Homo sapiens: one gene and its partner. The protein of the gene in region 2 purifies or fractionates together with the protein of the main gene of each other region. This does not show direct contact. Each region holds a gene or a part of one and is shown on either strand. Other genes may lie near its edges. The genes, in order: LZTR1 and RIT2.

Region 1 (9,099 bases), on a different chromosome or scaffold from region 2:
AACCCGAGGCGAGGCTTGTGGCTGGCCAACTGCCAGCGGCTGGACCCCAGCGGCCAGGGCCTGTGGGACCCGGCATCCGAGTACATCTACTTCTGCTCCAAACACTTTGAGGAGGACTGCTTTGAGCTGGTGGGAATCAGGTGGGCCTCCCTGCCGGCCGACGCTGGGGTAGGATGTGGGGCTCCCGGCGGACTGGGACAGCTGCAGGTCATGGAAGTCCCTTGAGCAGCCTGCGTCCAAGGGGGCTGTTTCCTGTTCCCAGCTCTGCACAGTGAAACCCACCCCCAGGATCACTGTGCCTGTGACACAAGGGGAAAACAGGAGCCTTTCCAGAGAGTATCTTTCAGAGCCCCAGTCTTGCCAGCAAGTCCACAAATCAAAGAATTCTTTCTGGCTGGTCAGCCCAGCTCGGCTTATGCAGGCTTTCCACACACCTGGACTGTGAGGAGTCCTGCGGGGAAGCGATTGGTGTAGCTGTAACTTGGCGTTCCCCAGACGTATTGTTTGCACGATGCCTTCCAGCATCCCACGGCGCTGCTGCTGGGGGCAGATTGGCCTGGGGAGGCAGCACTTGCTCTCCAGCTCATCTGGGTTGCTTTTCCCCGCAGTGGATATCACAGGCTAAAGGAGGGGGCAGTCCCCACCATATTTGAGTCTTTCTCCAAGTTGCGCCGGACAACCAAGACCAAAGGACACAGTTACCCACCTGGCCCCGCTGAAGTCAGCCGGCTCAGACGATGCAGGAAGCGGTATGTGATATGGGTGGGGGATGCCCCACTCCCACCCCTAGGCTGAGGGACTGGGCCCTAGGGGTGTCTGCCAGCAGTCTCGCTGGACAGGGTTCTTGCTACACAGAACCTGTGGATCGGGTTTGGGTGTTAAGGGTGGATCAGGTGGGCTGGTGGAGGGGGGTCTGGCAAGCCCTCAGCCTAGCCCATCAGTCTCTCTCTTCCCCCTTACCAGCTGCTCCGAGGGCCGAGGGCCCACAACTCCATTTTCTCCACCTCCACCTGCTGATGTCACCTGCTTTCCTGTGGAAGAGGCCTCAGCACCTGCCACTTTGCCGGCCTCCCCAGCTGGGAGGCTGGAGCCTGGCCTTAGCAGCCCCTTTTCAGACCTACTGGGCCCCTTGGGTGCCCAGGCAGATGAAGCAGGCTGCAGCGCCCAGCCTTCACCAGAGCGGCAGCCCTCCCCTCTCGAACCACGGCCAGTCTCCCCCTCAGCGTATATGCTGCGCCTGCCCCCACCCGCCGGAGCCTACATCCAGAATGAACACAGCTACCAGGTGGGCAGCGCCTTACTCTGGAAGCGGCGAGCCGAGGCAGCCCTTGATGCCCTTGACAAGGCCCAGCGCCAGCTGCAGGCCTGCAAGCGGCGGGAGCAGCGGCTGCGGTTGAGACTGACCAAGCTGCAGCAGGAGCGGGCACGGGAGAAGCGGGCACAGGCAGATGCCCGCCAGACTCTGAAGGAGCATGTGCAGGACTTTGCCATGCAGCTGAGCAGCAGCATGGCCTGAGGGGCTGCTGGACTGACCGAGGGGCTGCCCAGCAAGACTGCAGCCTCTTCCTCCCTCAGATCCCACCAGACCCACCAGGTGCCATAATAAAGCGGATTCTAGACGGAGGGCCTGCTGTCTGGCTCAGCTGGGGGCTGGAGCCCCTCTGAGTACTAAGCTTGCTGCCCCAGACAGTGGCTGCAGCTCCTAGAGGGCTCAGTCCAAGCTCTTTGCCAAGGAGAACAGGGAGCCTGGCTCTCACCCCTCAGAGCTACTGGTAGACAGGTGGCAGTCAGCCCTGCTAGCGCAGCTCCGTGCCCCACAGGGTTCTCTGAAGGGGCAGGATGGTGTGAGTAGGGGCCAGGAAGACAGCTCCAGGCGCCCTTTCCATAGGATCTGAAACAGCCCTGACTTAAACCAGCCAGCCCCTTTGAGAACACTTCTAAAACCCAGTCTAGATCCGGTTCTCAAGCAGGAGCATGACAGGCTTCTGTCCACAGGCCCCATCAGCCTGGTGGGTAAGCTGGACAACCCTCTCCCCGCCCCCTTCACTACCATCTCTATTTGAAAAACGGGGATGATGATGACAATCATCAACCTCCTGGGTCATGTCAGCAGGTAGTAAAGCCCCAACAAGCTAGTCCCTGGAAATCTAGGAAGAGGTGGCCAGAACATGGAGACAAGCACTCAGGTCCTGGCCTCAGCATCCTTTTCCTTCAACTCCCAGGAACCTGGAAGGCCTTGCTGCAGCTGCAGTTCTCAAACAGCTCCGTCTTGGGGTGACTCACTGCAAGTATGGCCTCTCCCTGCCGAGGAGCACAAATGAAATTCATTCTAGTCCCAGAAACTGCCACACAATTTCGTAAAATTTGCTTTTTAGGGCCCTTGGCATGTAATTTCATTTATTCATATAAGTCTAGATCAGGGTTCAGTGACAAGGGTCAGCATAGAGCAGGGTTGCAGACTGGTTCAAGGAGGCTTCTGGGTAGGCCCCTCCAGGAGGGATTTGGAGGAGGCTGCCCTGTGGGTGTGGCAGGAGCCACATCTTGTGGAAACTGGGTAGATGGGTGTGTGGCCCCACTCTGAGTGAATGCACCTGGCCCACATGGCTGGGCGCTGCAGCCTGCACTCCACTTCCAGGTGCTGACATATCCTCCCCAGCCATGGTCCTGGGCCTGCTGTGTCCTCACCTCAAGGGCCTCCCGGCTCAGCCTCTGCCCCAGCTCCTGCTCTCTCCTCCCTTGTTCCCAGCTCATCTTGCACTAGGCCACTTCCTAGCCTGCAGGCTGCCTATGGATCTCCTGTTAGCTAAGCAACTTGCCACTCAGGGCCCCCCACACACCTGCATACACCCAAAGGAGAGCAGGTCACTTCCCCAAGGAGCTGTGGCTTCATGGCAGCCACAACAAGAAAGGGGTCCTGGAATCCTGTTCCCAGTAAGGGAGCGCTGGCTCCCAGCACTAGAGTGGATCCACATGGGGCCCTCACTAGGGCAAGAGGGCAGCCCTCCTTCCACAGGAGCCAAGAGCATAGTGCAGGGGCAAGGCAGGGCAGAAGGGGCAGGAGCCCACCCCAGGCCTCCAGGATTCCCCTGGAAGGGGCCAGCCTGGAGGCCTTCACAGCCCTTCCCAATGTGACTGGGTGACCCCAGGTGGAGGCAGGAGTTGACAGCATGGATAGAGACAGGTAAGGCCACTGACCTACATCTGGGGGTCTGCTAAGCCATGGGCTGCTCAAGGGGCTGAAGCCAGCAGTGGTGGCCGGGCCAGCAAGGTGTGTGTGGTGGGTAGCACTGCTGTGGCTTTAATGGAGGCTTGTCTGTGACAGAATACTCAGCAAGGGACACGGGGGACTTTGCTGGCTTCTTCCCGGCCGAGCCCTGACATGCACACAGGTGGACTGGGATCCTTCAGCCCCTGTGAAAACCAGGCCTGGCCCAGCACGACCGACCTGGGAGCTGACCTCAGGGCCCTTCACTCCAAAATTCACCTCAAGTCAGGTGAGACCCATACATCATGGGTCCCCACTCACAAGTTCCAGGTGGGAAGAGGAGCCCCTTACATGGATCTCAGTGAGGGTGGGTGGGACAGGAGCAGCCCAGGCAGATTCGCTGGTGCAGCGCAAGTCTGCTAAGCCTCCTCCCGCATGTTGGAGGAGCCTTGGTGACAGGCCCCAGTGCCTGAGTCCACAACACGCCCAGGCCACAGAAGCCAGGCCAAGCCCCACTGGGTGGGAGGCCCAAAGTCTCTCCCCACTTCTGGGTGGTGAGCCCATCACTGAGCCGTGGCCTCGCATCCACACTACACCAGGAGAGGGTGATGACAGGAGGGGGTCTGCTTCATCATCCGCTCCCTGTGGGACCTGTGTCTTCAGTGAATTAATGAGTTTGGGGCCCCACATCCCCTCAGCTCTCTTTGGAGGCTCTGGGCACCCTGACCCTTGGCCTGGCAGGTGCACCCACTGCCATAGGCATGCGCATAGCCGGTAGTCTTCTCAGTAGGCAGGGCAGGCAGGCACGGCGATTCTTCACAATGGGCAGGCGCCACAGGGCCTCAGATGTCGGCGCCCAGCTCTGCGCACTGCTTGTCTGAGATGTGGGAGGCCAGGGAGTCTATGATGTCCAGCAGCAGCTGCTGGCTCAGCGACCGCAGGGTGGGCAACTTGGAGACCTGTAAGGCAAGCAGGCCGGAAGGAGATGGGACCAGATCCACCTAAGGGCCATGGTGGGCAGTGGAGCCCTGTGGGGCCTACCCTGCTCAGGGCTCAGGCTGGTCCCAAGGATGAAGCAAGGTGCGGCCAGTGATGGGCTGCTCTGCTTCTCTCACCCCCAGGGCCCACCACTGCAGGGGACCACAGAGCCTGGGCACCCTCCCTGCCTGGGCATGGCCACTGCCAAGGGGAAGCGAGTCCTGAAGGGGAGGCCAGAGCCCTGACCTTGGTGAACTGGTGCACAATGATGTGCAGGCAGTGCCGCTTCATGTCCAGTGCCTGCGTTTTGTCAGCTGCCTCCAGGATCTGCAATGGCAGGGACCTTGAGGCGCTGCCCCTTTCACCCACTCAGTGGGAGCTGCAGCCATGTGCACGGGGCTGGGGGGCTACCTGCAGCACGTTCTGCACCGTCACGTTCATCTCCAGGTTCTGCTTGCAGTACGCCTGCAGCCGGTTGTTGTAGAAGCCGTAGTAGTAGGGGGCCGCAAACAAGTAGCTGGGGCCTGGTTAAGGAGCTGACTAAAGGAAGCTGGTCCGCCCGCACCCTCCCAGGGAAGGACAGGGAAGGGCGCAGCTGGAGCCCCAAGCCCCCACGCCAGCATGCTCTCCAAATGGATTCTGAACTACTTAGTGGGTCAAAGGCCCCATTCAGGATCCAAAGAAAACCATGAATCCCCTCCCGAGAAAAATAGTGTCTGTACATCTGTAGCGCTGTTCCATGGCCTTGCAGGCCTAACAGGCATCCTGACCCTCCATGTTCAGACCCCTACTGAAGTGACATAAGGAGTACCTCCATGTCTGTGCTCAACTGTCACACAAAGCAATGACCCACCCCGTCCTCTGGGCAGTTGTGAGGGTCAGGAACCCACTGGTTCCTCCTGGCTGCAAACCCCTCCTTGCCAGCTGCCAACTGCTTCAGAGAGCACCAGGCCCAGCCCCAGGCACCAGCAAACCCTCTGGAGGGAGGCGCTGGGCCCAGATCACCTAGCTGGGGCAGGAGAGCGGGCCTCAAAGCCACCTGAGGTGGGTGCCAGGACCCCTTGGTGGGGACCTGGGAGTTCACTGGGGAGTGAGGATGCAGCGAGTCCTCGGGCGGCATGTTGACCTCGCCGTAGTAGATGTAGCGCAGCATGGACTCGAAGGCCTGCCTGCTGGGCACCATCTCCCCGATGGAGATGTTCACCTGCCCATCTTCGGGCATGAAGGACCGGAACATGGCTTCAAAGTAGCTGCAGACAACGAGCGGTAGGCACCTGGCCGTCAGCAGAACGAAGACACCATCCAGGCCCACCCTCCCCTCCTGTCCAGCCCCCACCCACCTGGAGCGGGCGGCCAGGATAGCCTTGTGGGCTGGCCGTGGGTGCCCGTCAAGCAACAGAGTGATGTCACAGAATTCCGCGCCCGCTCCCTCCAGGTATGCCTTCATGTCCTGGATCAGAGATGTGCCTGGGGGTAGGAGGGTCCCTGAGCAGGTACAGCCTGGGATTCTGGCCTTGGGGCCCCACGGCACTACCTTCCTGCATATCTGCCCATGTTGCTGCCCTGAACAAAACTTCACCCAGGCAGAAGGCCTCACTCGCCCTGAGGTACCATCAGCCACATTCTGTCCTCCCTCGGCGCCCTGGCCGACTCAAGCACTATGCCCCACGCACAGCCCACCACCCAGCGTCTCATCTTCCACCCAGCTTGCTGTACCCCCTCGCTGACCTCATGATCAAGCCCCCTCCAGGCCCACTGCATGGCCTCTGGTGCCTGCAGACATCACCAAGAGCCAGCAACCGGGGTCAGCACAAGCCCCAGGGAGAGCTGGGGGAATGAAGGGGCCTGTGACATTACAAGCAAAGAGAAGTCCAGAGACTGATCACCGTGACCCTGGGCCATCAGACCTGACATCCTAGCCCGAAAGAGGTGCCCCATGTCCACCCCCAGAAATTGGCTCAGGAAATCCCAGGTCACCAGGACACAGCCCACTGTGGCAAGCCCCATGGGTCGGGGGCTTCTGCCTTCATCTGTTTCCTCCCTGTACCCAGGAGAGCACTCTGGGGTCCCATGGCACCCACCCCCACCCCGAGGGCCTGGCAGGTGCTCTCCATGGCTCCCAATCTCCTACCGCAGATGAACACCATCCCTCCCAGCCCCCAGGGAAGGGGAACGGGGCTCCCTACCAATGTCCACTGGCTGGTCCAAGGGAGTGCGAGGGGGCGGCTGCTGCTTCCGCCGCACAATCTCCACTATCAGTGGAGAGGAGAGGCGCTCGAACTCCTTCATCATGATCACCTGGTTGAAGTGGGACTCCTTTACCACGAAGTTCAGGCAGTGCTCCTGGGGCAGACAGGCACAGGCAGGCAGGCAGAGTCAAGCCAGGGCCCCAGGCTGGGCGAGGGGCTCACAGTGGTGGGCAGGGAGGGGGCCTAAGCCTGAGCACACCCCACCCAACCCTGATTGCGCTGACCCCACCCCACACCTTGAGTTGGCTCAGCTGCAGCCGGGCGGCACTCTCGCACACAACCAGCACGTTCTGCAGGTCCACGGAGGCCTCGATGTACTGGCGGCACAGCTGCTCCAGGCGGCACAACTGGAAGCTCAGTGCCAGTTTGTACACATCCATGATGAGCAGCACATCCTCCACATGGCCTGCGCCCCAGAGCCCCCGAATCTCAGGGAGCCGGAGAGGGGAGGGCAGGGCACAGGGCGCAGGGCTCCCCCCATGGAAGAGTGTGGGCTGGGGCCACTAGGTAGGAACAAGGCCTCGGGGGACTCAGATGGCGTCCAGCTGCAGTGATCATGGGTAAGGAGGGTGACCTGCAGCCTCTGAGCCTCAGGGGGCCCATCAGTAAGGCAGGGCTGGCAGCACCCACCTTTTGGCTCTGCTGCCCGCACCCCAGCCCACACCAACCCTGCTCCACCCCCACCCAGGCGGACCTTTCCGTGGGTATTTGATCTTGTCGGTGTAGAGGAACTGCATGAGCACCTCGAAGGGCCGGGCCTCGGCCTCCCGGATGGCCACGTGCAGCAGGGGCGGCCGGGCCCCACCAGCAGCCACGCCGGGGGCCTCCCTGGGAACTGGGGCGGCCTCCTGCTCCAGCTTCTGTGGGGAGAAGGGAGCTCAAGGACACCCCAGTGGACACCAGGCATGGCTGCCAGGTCAGGGCAGGGCGGTTAGGCACCTCACCTGGGCCAGCCTCTCCCGCGCCTGCGTGATCTTCCTGCGAAGCCAGCGGCTCCGCGCTGTGACAATGGCTACGTGGCCCTGCACGCACTCCTCCTTCTGCACAAAGAATGATGCACTGGCAGAGGGCACAGGACCCTCGCCCCAGAGAACAGAGACCCAGCCAGCCAAGGTCAGCACCACCAGGCCAGCAGCTGTTTTTCTGAGGGGCGAAATTCCCACTGCCCAGGCACAGCAGGCAGAGCAGGGTGCGAGGACAGGCACCCACCTCACCCAGCACGAACTCCACGTCGCAGAACTGGCGGCTCTCCCACAGCCGCCCGTAGTCCTCGTGCAGCGTGCATTTAGGGTAACAGGAGAACTGCAAGAGGGGCCCAGTGAGACTAGATGTTGCAGACAGCAGGGTGGCCCCAGTGTGGCTGTGCAGGCCGACCCTGAGGTCCCCACCTGGCCCATGCTGACCCTCAGGGCCCAGGAGGCAGGTGGGCCTGGCTGAGGAGAGGAAGCAGCCGCTACCCCACCCTGAAAATACAGCCTGGCTCCAGCCTCAGCACCTGCAACTGTCCACGGCCGGCTCCACAGCAGGAAAGGGCTCCCCTGCCTCTCTTGCCTTCGGCTGGGCCCCAGGCCTCAGCAGAGCTCTGCCGTCTCCACTCTGCCTGGACCTGCGTCCTCACACTGGCCCCCACCAGCACATCCCAACCTCCTCCAGGAAGCTGGCCCTGACCTCACTGTGGCTGTGAGTCCCTGCCCTGACCACCTGCTCCTCCAGGCCTGGGAAGGGGCTGTCAACGCAAGCCACTGTCGGCCCTGGCTCTGCCCTGGGCCAGGCTATGATGCCTGTGAGGCTCTGGTGCTGAGCCCAGCTTGGCCCGGCTCCCTCCACTGACTCTGCCGTGAGCCCCAGCACCATCTGCCTGCCCCACTGCACGAAGGCTGCCCACTTTAGTGCCACCTCAGCCCACCCTCAGCCCACAGGGCTCCTCCCAAGGCTTCCATCCTGCCAGGTGTGGCCCTGGCAATGGCCTGGATAAGCCCTGCCCCCCAACTTGGCCTCAGTTTCTCATCACGGGGGATCCGTCCACCCAGCCGGCTCTACAGGCCCACAGGCCCCACACCTGGAACCTGTACATCTCCCCGCTGCGGATGTTGTTGTCCACCGTGCCCCCGAAGATGTACATGGCGTCCGAGATGACAGCAGCCGCGTGGAAGAGCCTCCCACTGGGCAGCTGGGGGACAAGAAGGCAGGGTGGAATGGTGGGGGAGCAGAGCCTCCACAGTGCGGCTGGTGCAGCCAGGTAAGGCAAGGATGCGGCACCTCATGGCCATGAAGGGCCAGGGGGCAGGGTCCCCAAGGGATGAGGGCCCCTGGGTACAGACACAGGTGGGACCTGGTACCCATGTAGGCGAGTGGGGCATGACGGGCCATGGAGACCCTCAGAGTGGTCAGGGCACTTGGGCCAGTGTGTGGCACCCACCCCAGAAAGCTGCAGCCTGGCCAGCAGGGTGAGGGCCCTTGGCCCTGTACCCCCTTTGTGGTGTGACCCCAAGCAAGTATTTCTCGGGGCCTCAGTCTCCCCATGTGTGAGAGGTGTTGATCACAGGACCTGTTTCAGGGGGTGATGGAGTCTTAATGAGGATCCCAGCCTGTACCTCCGAGGCAGGCTGGGTGGGCTGCTTGGCTGAGGTGGTGCCAAAGTCCAGGCCAAACACATCTCGGGACTTC
Region 2 (10,478 bases):
ACACCCCCAAGTTTATTGCACCACTACGCACAGTAACTGAGATATGGAATACAACGGAACGCCCATCAACAGATAAATGGATAAAGGAAATGTCATATACATACACAATGGAATGCTATTCAGACATGAAAAAAGAATGAAATCCTGTCATTTGCCACAACATGGATGAACCTGGAGGACATAACGTTAAGTAAACTAAATCAGGCATAGAAAGATAAATACCAAAAGTTCTCACTTGTAAATGAAATCTAAAAAAGTTGATATAGAAGTAGAACTGTGGTCATTAGAGGCTGGGAAGAGAGAGGGAGGGTAGGATGGGGAGAGTTTGGTTAACAGATACAAAATCACAGCTAGATGGGAGGAATGAGTTCTGGTGTTCCACAGCGCTATATAATGAATGTGGTTGGCTATAATTTATTGTGTATTTTCAAAAAGTTAGAGAGGATTTTAATGTTCACAGCACAAAGAAGTAATAAATGTTTGAGGTGATAGATATCCTAATTACCATTATTTGATCATTATACATTGTATACACCTATGAAAATAACACATAAATACATATGATTATTACTTGTCAACTAAAAATGAAAGGGAAAAAAAAAGATGCTGAGGTATTCCAGACTTCTGTTACTCAGAATTTGCCAATATAAAATCCCTAATATTTTTCCACTGATTTCAGTCCTAAGATAATTATATTGGAATAAAGTATGAAATATTTCTAAACAGTAAATAAATAAATAAATAAATATAATAGGCAGGAACCAATTAGCTGAAGTTTTTACAATTTCAAATAAAAGATGTGCCCTTTTGCTACCAAATAAAGAGCCTGATTTCTTCAATTAAACAAAAATCTGTATCCATGTAGCTTATTATTAGCTTTTCCTGCAACCATTAAATATGACTCTTTCCCTTTAAATGTTCAGTGTTGCTACTATGGAGAATGGAAGACATGTCATATTACTCAAAATTTATTAAAACAATACACAAATTGGAAAAATTAATTTCAGTCTGGATTCAAGCAGAGGCATGCTCTGTTAAAAGCCATAGCCCCTCTAATCAGGCCCTTTGTGGGCTATTGTAGCAGGCAATTGTCCTCCAGTCCTTTCTCTAACAGGCAGTGTGCTGTGTGTGTGTGTGTGTGTGTGTGTGTGTGTTTGTGTGTGTGTGTGTGTGTTTGTGTGTGGTATGGGTCAATTAGGATGAATAAAGGGATTGTTTACTAAGGTAACTAGTAAACTACTTTTATTACTGTCACTGAAATTACCACTCAGGAGACCAAAGCAGAAACTAATCAATATAAGGATCTAGAGAGCAAGAACAAGAATAGAGCAGGTGCATATACAATGGCAGTTTTACAATATTCAACCCAAATTGTATTTTCCTAGGACCTATCTGAAATATGTGTCACTACTCTTCCCTATGTTACAGAGGTAAACTGCCTTAGGTGGAGGCATGGAAGGAAGGAACAAAAAAAGGAAGGGAGGAAGGGAGGAAGAGAGGAAGGGAGGAAGGGAGGAAGAAAGGGAGGGAGGGAGGGAGGGAATGAGCAGTTTTAATGAAGGTGTAATATTGGGCAATATAATCTATAGTTTTTATTTAGTATTTTCCAATGTCATCTACCCAGCAATTCTCTGAGGATATTTTAATTAAAGCCCTTAATGAGGAAAAGGGAGACTCAAAGAGCTTAAGTGACCTGTGCAACGTCAAGTGTTGTTAAGGGTAAATAAATAAAAACAAAGCTATCCATTTACGTTATAAACTTTGTCCCACAGTTTGTGCCAGGCTATGTAATTAATATTCTGAGTATGAACCGTTACAGTAGTTATTATTGTCATCCCCATTTTACAGATGAGAAAAGACAAATATGGATTTCCTGGGTTACCCAAACCCCCAGTTCACATTATTCTGTCATCACTTCTATGGTAGGGCTTCATTCTACAGATTGAAGGTTGATCAAAATAATATATGGTAACGAGCACAGTGGACAGTGGTTAAGGGCCTCAGCTCTGGCAGTGGTTGAGTCCTGCATAGTCACCTCAGGCTCTGGGTTCCTGAGTGAATTACTCACCATCTTCAAGCTTTATTGTTCTCATCTATTAATTAGAGATATTAACCACACCCACACTTCTGGGTTTAGTGAGACTTAATAAATTAACATATTTAGTGCATTTTGAACAGGGTCAGGTATATGCAAAACTCAGAAGTGTTCACTTTTATTTTGCCATTCATTGCAGGAAGAAATTGAAAGAATAATAGTTTGGACAAAACAAGAAACATTCCTCTTTTGTGAATGCACGCAGATTTATGAACACAAACACACACTTTATTGCTCATTTTAAAGCATATTAAGAGGAAATGTGAACTGGTAAAGTGTCTAAGGACTTCTGATTCATTCAATAAGTGACTACCCAAACATTGATTTTCACATATACAAGAAATCTTCTGATAAAGAACTTCCCTCATCCACCACCACCACAACTTCTCTAACTATAATTGTTAAAAATCTTTATTCGGCGTTCCATTGTAAGACCACAAATTATCTACACTATCTCATTTCAGTTCAATTAAAGATTTTTTCCTGGGACTGCAAATATAGTTTTCTCTCTGATTTCCTTTTCAATGCAACATCTCCAGGGAGGCCCCAGTCCCCCACTCCCCCTTCGGCTTTACATCCTTCATGCATACTTTAGGAAGAATCAGGTTTCTATCTGCCCAATACACATGGCAGTGGCAGGATGCTGAAATGCTTGGAGTATTTGGGGACCAGAACTATCAATACTCTCACGCTGAAGCTGTGGTGTTAGCTGAAGTAGAATTATAGTAGGCAGAAAGGGCAGAAATGATGGTCTGGCAGAGTGACTAGCAATGGCACTTAGCTGGTCCCTGCTGAGCAATGAGAAGGACAGGTAGCACTGTTTGGTCAGGGTCACCAGAAAGCTGGTATTTATTTATGAGGAAAGCCCAAGTGATTGAGTAGATATCATTGATGGGCTTTGCAAATAGCCAGATTCATTGATAAAAGTGCACCTTCCATGTCTGTGAGCAGTACAGAGGACCACCGTCTGTCAATGTGTACAGTCGCAATCCCACCACACTGCAAACACACACACGCACAGAAATAATCGGTCATAGGCAGCAGGTTGATCTCCAGTGAGATTTTATGCTGGTTTATGGGAGGCAAAATGGCCTATTGGAAAAATTCATGCTCTAGAAAGTCAGGAGACTCTAGTCCCAACGCTACAGATGAACAGCTGAACAATGTATGGTAGGTCATTTTATCTTTCTAAGCCATAGTTCTCATTGCTTCCAAAATACCTCCCATGCATCTCTATCATTGCCTCACAAGTCTGTTTATACATCTTGTTTGTTACCCTGGTGGACAGGGCAGAGGCTGTGTCTAATTCTTGGTCATATCTGTGGGCTTTTCACAGGTCTAGGCGTGCACGCGTGCGTGCACGCATACACACACAAACACTCTTTTGTCAGTTTCTATTAATTATTCCAAAATGTATATGTTTAAAGAAAGTATGCTTCCCTAAGCAAATCAGCACCTAATTTCAAAAATCGGTATGGTTTACTCAGCACCCTGTTTACTTTCTTTGTTTGCATGATCCCAGGTTTCAATAAATTCCTATAATTACTGGGTTACTTGGTTTTCTCAAGTTGAAAGGAATTGTCACCTTCTCTCTATGTGGTTGAGGCCCCCAGGGGTCTCTGAATAGACAAGAACAAACCAGTCTTTGGCACCTCCATGCTAAATTGTTTAGTCAGAGCTCCTCATGCCACTCACTACCCCATCTAATAAGCGTAGCACTCTCCGTTGTTTGTGTAGAAAATTAAAAATATTAAAATATTTTCATATAGACGATTTTGTGTGATGTTTAAAATACATGCATGAAAATGTGGCCGGGTGCAGTGGCTCACGCCTGTAACCCCAGCCCTTTGGAAGTCCGAGGCGGGTGGATGACGAGGTCAGGAGATCGAGACCATCCTGGCTAACACGGTGATACCCCGTCTCTACTAAAAATACAAAAAAAAAAAAAAAAATTAACCGGGCATGGTGGCGGGTGACTGTAGTCCCAGTTATTCGGGGAGGCTGAGGCAGGATAATGGTGTGAACCCAGGAGGCAGAGCTTGCAGTGAGCCGAGATTGCACCAGTGCACTCCAGCCTGAGTGATAGAACGAGACTCCATCTCAAAAAAAAAAAAAATGCAGCTGAAGTTAGAACTCAGGTTCACTGTATCATGTCTTCAAAAAATAAAAACTTTCAGGTGAGAAAATAAAAATAATGTAAACATCGAACTTAGACATCCATATGTAGGCACATTAGGTTCATCATTTAATATCTATGTGCCTTGGGCCATATTACGTGTGTGTGTGTGTGTGTGTGTGTACCTCAGTTTTCTCACTTATAAAACGCAGACAGTAAAGCCTTCCTCACAAGATCAAGGCAGGGTGAGGGGTATAGTAAGGCAAGGGAATGTGACAGACCATCAGCCAGCAAAACACCAAAGCAAATGCGTGAACGTAAAGAGCTCAGCAACATGTGGGCTCATTGAGGGATTATTACATGCTCGTTCATCTCCAGTCATAGATGGGGCAGACATATCATATAGTACTCATGTAGAGCTGTAGAAACTCTCTTTCATCAATTTAAAATCTACAGAGTGCATATAATCTTGGAGATGTTGTCAATCAAAGCCTTTCGCCTGAATTCTGTTTTCAATCATTATTTGAGTGAGTAGATACCAATTTACTCTTTTACTGAGCCTTATTTAGACCTCTTGGCTAATGCTTCCTGACAGTATTGCAGTGAGTGATGGTCTGCAGTACAACTGAGGTGGTAACAATTAAGGGTGAGAACAGAAGGCCCTGGAATCTTAAAATCTTTTTGCTTTCCCCTTGTTTATTTTGTTTCTTTTGCCTTACAGTCCACAGGGTTAGGATAACGCATGGCCACGATGTGACAATTGTTGAGCTTTGTCAGACTCAAAGTTCTGCTAATGAAGTAAAATACAGAGGCTGTGGGACATGAATGATGCACTTGGTTGCTTGCCTTGATTTAATTCATCAGATAAAGGCTCAACTTCCTACCTGCTTTCCTAATTCACTGAGGTGGAAGGAATTGGTTGTGTGCTGCTTTCCGTTTACCTCAGAGATATTGTTACTGCTTTCTCTTTATAAAATCCTGCTACATGAAACTGAATTTGCAGAGGCAACAAACTGCACATGGCCGTGGGAGAGAATATGTTTGTTTATTTTAGAAATCAGTTTTTTCTTTACAAAGAATTCACAATGGAAACATTCTAATAAATTCTGAGTTCCCTAATCCTTTTTGGGTTTTCAGTTTATTTGTGTTGTGTAACTTTTTCACAGTTAACTGAAGCATCTATTGAGCAAATCTCAAAAGATATTTTTTCAACTACCACTTAGAGACACTAAATTATCAAGATGCTGCCATTAAAAATTATAAGCCTTCAGATCCCTTTGTGCCCCTGTATACACTGTTTATGTTCAATTCTTTCCCTTGGATCTCCCCATACTTTTCTTCTTCAGCATCAAAAAAATCCTCCTCATCCTTTAAGACATAATTTAAATACCATCTATGCTGTGATTTCTTCTCAACTTTCACATCTCTTATAGCCACCCCTTATACTGAGTTTCCAAAGCTCTTACATCAGAAGCCTAATATAAACTTATTGTTTTGTATTACACATTACAGCAAATTTTCCACCATGAGATGGTGCACTCCCAGAGGTCAGGAATCACCTGAAATCATAGTTGTGAATAACACTCCCTCCCTGCTCAATGACTTGCATAGTGTTTCATACATATTTCACATTTGAAGATGTATGTTGACAACATTTCACCAAATAATTCCAAGATGTGTCCTAGGGACCAGAGAAGGACATAAAGTTCTCATCTGACATTGGGAACCTTTTTCTGCTTTTCCCATACAATTTGATAGAAAAACAATTTAGATGTAGAAAGCCTGTGTTCATGTCCAGTCCTTATTTTCTGACTTTCCTACTAGACAAATCTCTTGATAGTTCTGTGCTTAGATACCTCTCCTACTTGCCTTCTTACTTTGTGATCAAATAAGATCATAATCAGAATAAGTAAAATGTTATTTTTACCCCAATTTTATGCGATAATATCTTATTTTGCAAAATATGATCATTATGAATCTTAAATTATTTAAATCTTAAAACATTATCATTATGTTAAGTGTATGCCTGTATACGAATATTTCCTTAACTCCATATATATATATACCCACTATGTACCCATAAAAATAAAAAAAATCAGTAAAATAAAAACCTACTAACTTAGAATAAATCCCAAATGCAGATATTTTCCAAAATACCTGGAAAATAAGATATTATTTTTATTAAATAAAATCTGTTGAATAAATTTGATTCTGAACTTGGAGAACCAGATGTGAAGCCAAGGAAGACAATATTTCATCATGCTCTGGCATTGAGGAACGGCCTTGCTGTTTCAAACCACAGTGACAAAGGTCAATATTTGAAACTGTTATAAGGATTGTTTAGGCTCCATAAAACTTTAAAACTGTAACCATGAGATTATTTTTATTTTTATTTTTTAGGGTGGGTGAGTGGCGGGCAGTGGAACAAAATGAGATAGAAGGCTAAAAGAAGATGCCTAAAAGATGCCTAACATACTGAACTTTATTGGATAATTTGTCTTTTTTGTTGTTTTCTTTTGGTTTTAGTTGTAATCACAGTTTGTAATATAAGTTTCTATTCTACTGTCATTTAATGTTATTTCACTGAATGTGTATGTGTGTATATATATGTGTGTTGTTTCTTAAGTAGTTTTCTCGTCATGAGTCTTATTTTTAAAATAAACTTTATTGTGTATATTTAAGGTATACAATATGATGTTGTGGGATACACATAGATAGTAAAATATTTACTATAGGAAAACAAATTAGCATATCCATCATTTCACATAGCTACTTTTTATAGGGGGTGGCAGTATCAGCAGCTAAAATCTACTAATTTATGCAGCACTAGCAACAATAGCCAAGATTTGGAAGTAACTTAAGTGTCCATCAACAGAAGAATGAATAAAATAAATGTGGTATATATACACAATGGAATACTATTCAGCTATATAAAAGAATGAGATCCAGTCATTTGCAACAGCATGCATGGAAATGGAGATCATTGTGTCAAGTGAAATAAGCCAGACACAGAAAGACAAACTTTGCATGGTCTCATTCATTTGTGGAAGTTAAAAATTAAAACAATTTAATTCATGGAGATAGTAGAATGATGGCTACCAGAGGCTGGAAAGGGTAGTAGGAAGAGGGAGTGGAGATGGTTAATGGGTACAAAATTGTGGTTAGATGGAATGAATAAGATCTAACATTTGATAGCACAACAGGGTCATTATCATCACAAATAAGTTATTGTACATTTTAAAATAACAAAAAAGTATAATGGAAGATTTATAACACAAATAAATGATGAATGTTTGAGGTGATGGATACACCATACCCTGATGTGATTATTATACACTGTATGCCTGTATCCAAATATCTCATGTACTCCATAAATATATACATGTATAAAATATATACACCTACTATGTACAAATAAACATAAAAAAATCTACTAATTTAGCATAAACCCCAAATAAAATATTATTACCTCTAGTCCTCATCCTATACATTAGATCTCTATACTTGTTCCTCCTAAATGTCTGCTACTTTGTATACATATCTGTTACTTTGTATGGTGCAGTTTTGATTCAGCTTACTCTGTGTAAAAATTGGGGAGTGATGGAAAAGCAGCTTCAATGGTGTCAGAAGGACTGGATTCTGGATCTGACTCTGCCACTGCTGTATAAATGACCTTTGCAGGTCTCTTCACCTCTCAATGCCTCAGTTTGGCCATTGTCCAAATAATTCTTGTGTATCCCTGTTTTCTCTGCAGTTAGTAACATTCTTGGACAATATTACATATAATTATAAAAATATAAATACAAATATTAATATTATATATTTATACAGAAGTATTATGCATAGTGTTCAATTAGGTTAAAGATTAAAGCGGCATAGATGTATAAATCAAAGTGATAGCCTAGATGGTTAAGATCTCTTCTAAATATAACATTCGAGACCTAGGAAATGCATTATCAATGGATCTGTTTTCTTCTTACTAGTGAGTGATGCAACTCTTTGTTCTTCTCAGAGCATTAAACATAATGTAGTAGAGTTAGATAAAACATCACAGAACTCTAAATTATTACCCCCATGACCAGGCACAAGTTATTTTTCTGACCTCTGTTTTTTCATCTGTGAAATAGAAATACCGACTCTGACTGTGGTTAGGACTGAGTATAAGCGTGAAATACATGTAGCCCATGCCTGCCATGCAATGGGGGCTTCATAAATGTTTACGTCCTTCATAGTAACTAGTATAGGACTGTGCATAATACGTGCTCAGTAAACTTTATTGATTACTTGTGGTTTAAAATTCCTCACATAAAGTACATTCATTAACTGACATATTTTAAATCTTGTGGGAATTCCTATTTCAGTAAAGTTGCAAATTCTTTTAAAAGTTTCTATTAAAAAATATTTTGGTAAAACATGGACAAAAACATTTCTCAGGCCAGGCACAATGGCTCATGCCTATAATCCCAGCACTTTGGGGGGCTGAGGCAGGAGCATTGCTTGAGGCCAGAAGTTTGAGACCAACCTGGGCAACATAGTGAGAGCCCATCTCTACAAAAAGAAAAATAAAAAAGAATAAATATTAATATACATAAAAAATCTCCAAGATTTTAAAAATTATAGTCACCATAAATTTAGTTTTTAATTCATGTTTAAGGCTGACTTGGACTTGACTCTCAGAATTGGAAACAGATGGTAGCTTGATGCATCTTCTTTAGTTTCTTCAGAAGAGCAGATCTCTTCTGGAAATCTCTTCACACAACCCAGGGTAATGGGGTTATACAATCCCTTCATATACCTCTGTTGATCTAAGTCTTTGATATGAAAAGTAGGTTTTAAAACGTATATTTTAGAGCCATGATCATGCCACTGCACCCCAGCCTAGGCTCAAATGAGATAAAATAAACCATGTATATTTTTAGCTCATTTGAAAGCAAATATTTTAACCTTCAATAGAAGGTTAATATTAAGAATCAGTGCTTGAATGTTTATATGCTGATGGAAGAACATCAGGTAAGTCACAGGGGAAAGTCCAAGGACCAGATGATTTTCTCACTGTGATTTCAAACATTTAGTCATAAGGACAGCATTTTCCAGGTGTGAAATTGTAGTATGAGAAATATTCTCTGGTGTAGTAGCCAAGGTTGCCATTTATATATAATCAATACAACTGAGCTGTTTATACTCCTTATCCTTATCTTTCTCTGAGAATGAGCTGGTCATTCCTGTCTTTTCATCTCACAGGAAAAGTTTTGTTCAAGTACTTAATTATGAATTGACTTCTATTGTACAAAGCAAAGATGAGAGCAAGCCAGGCCACTCTGTGGGCCATGTGTCACATTGAAAATCCATAGTCATTGGAACAGTAACAATGATCTGTCAGCACAAATAATACTTGGGAGAGATCAAAATAGAAGATAAAATATCACCACTATAATATCAGCAATATCACAAGAAAAGTGTGTTGCTGAAGGATGTTCCCGTCCAAAATCTCTTTTCTCCAAGTTTCATTTAGGTGGAATAAATTGAAGTAGGCTAAAAATCAGTCACTCTATCCCCACATCCCCCAAGCTCCTAAAAGCAAATACCTAACCAGCAAACAAAAGCAATACAGAGGCACATTATTGCGACAATTTCAGCATCTCCCTGACCTCACAAGCTGCTGGTGGCATTTAATGTGGATTGGTCTTTTGCCTGTTTTTTTTAAATCTGTTTTTCTCTCTTCTTCAGTATTTTATTCTCACATTGTTTATTTCTTTCTTCCTCACTGTATCTGACTGGATTCTTGTAAAGTATAACTTCATTTTATATAGATCATGTTGTCTCTATCCTTCCTCCATCCCTTCCTCCTTCCTTAAATCCTAACCTATTTTGATTCCTTCCTTCTCAAATCATTATATTTAGAGGAGAAAGCTTTTTAAAAATTCCTCATTTATACACAATTACAAAGCTTTTCTTTCATATTTTTGCCTCCCTAGAAGAGATGAATAATTTTTTTCACTTTGATATGCATTTTGCTACTGACCACATCCAGATGTACCTATTTCTTTTATTTTTTATGAGAATTCTCTTTTGTAGGGTGAGGAGAAGAGGTAGGGGTGCTGAATTTTATGTTTCTTACTATCTTTAACTTTGTTGTCCACTAAAGTCACAATCTCCTTCCTCTTCCTTTACTGTTCAGTTTTCCTATCCCTTGTGGACCCATCCACCAAAGTTGTTAGTTTTTTGGTTTCTTCTGCCGAAAATATTGTCTTCGTCTTTTAATTTTTT

The links.
Region 1: the proteins of RIT2 (region 2) and LZTR1 purify together in Homo sapiens (affinity purification with mass spectrometry; 3 studies listed by BioGRID and IntAct, with this or other methods). This does not show direct contact.

Annotation. Positions count from the first base shown.
Region 1 is NC_000022.11:20,992,297-21,001,395, reverse strand, and holds the end of LZTR1 (leucine-zipper-like transcriptional regulator 1), read right to left. Parts: coding exon 9,027-9,099; intron 8,603-9,026; coding exon 8,492-8,602; intron 7,735-8,491; coding exon 7,642-7,734; intron 7,473-7,641; coding exon 7,377-7,472; intron 7,293-7,376; coding exon 7,127-7,292; intron 6,839-7,126; coding exon 6,669-6,838; intron 6,527-6,668; coding exon 6,370-6,526; intron 5,651-6,369; coding exon 5,524-5,650; intron 5,434-5,523; coding exon 5,284-5,433; intron 4,701-5,283; coding exon 4,595-4,700; intron 4,511-4,594; coding exon 4,430-4,510; intron 4,165-4,429; coding exon 4,048-4,164; 3' UTR 2,364-4,047; downstream 1-2,363. Other genes in the region: THAP7 (THAP domain-containing protein 7), read left to right, coding at 1-140, 609-749, 964-1,516. UniProt on the Homo sapiens protein: Substrate-specific adapter of a BCR (BTB-CUL3-RBX1) E3 ubiquitin-protein ligase complex that mediates ubiquitination of Ras (K-Ras/KRAS, N-Ras/NRAS and H-Ras/HRAS).
Region 2 is NC_000018.10:43,103,978-43,114,455, forward strand, and holds part of RIT2 (GTP-binding protein Rit2), read right to left. Parts: intron 1-10,478.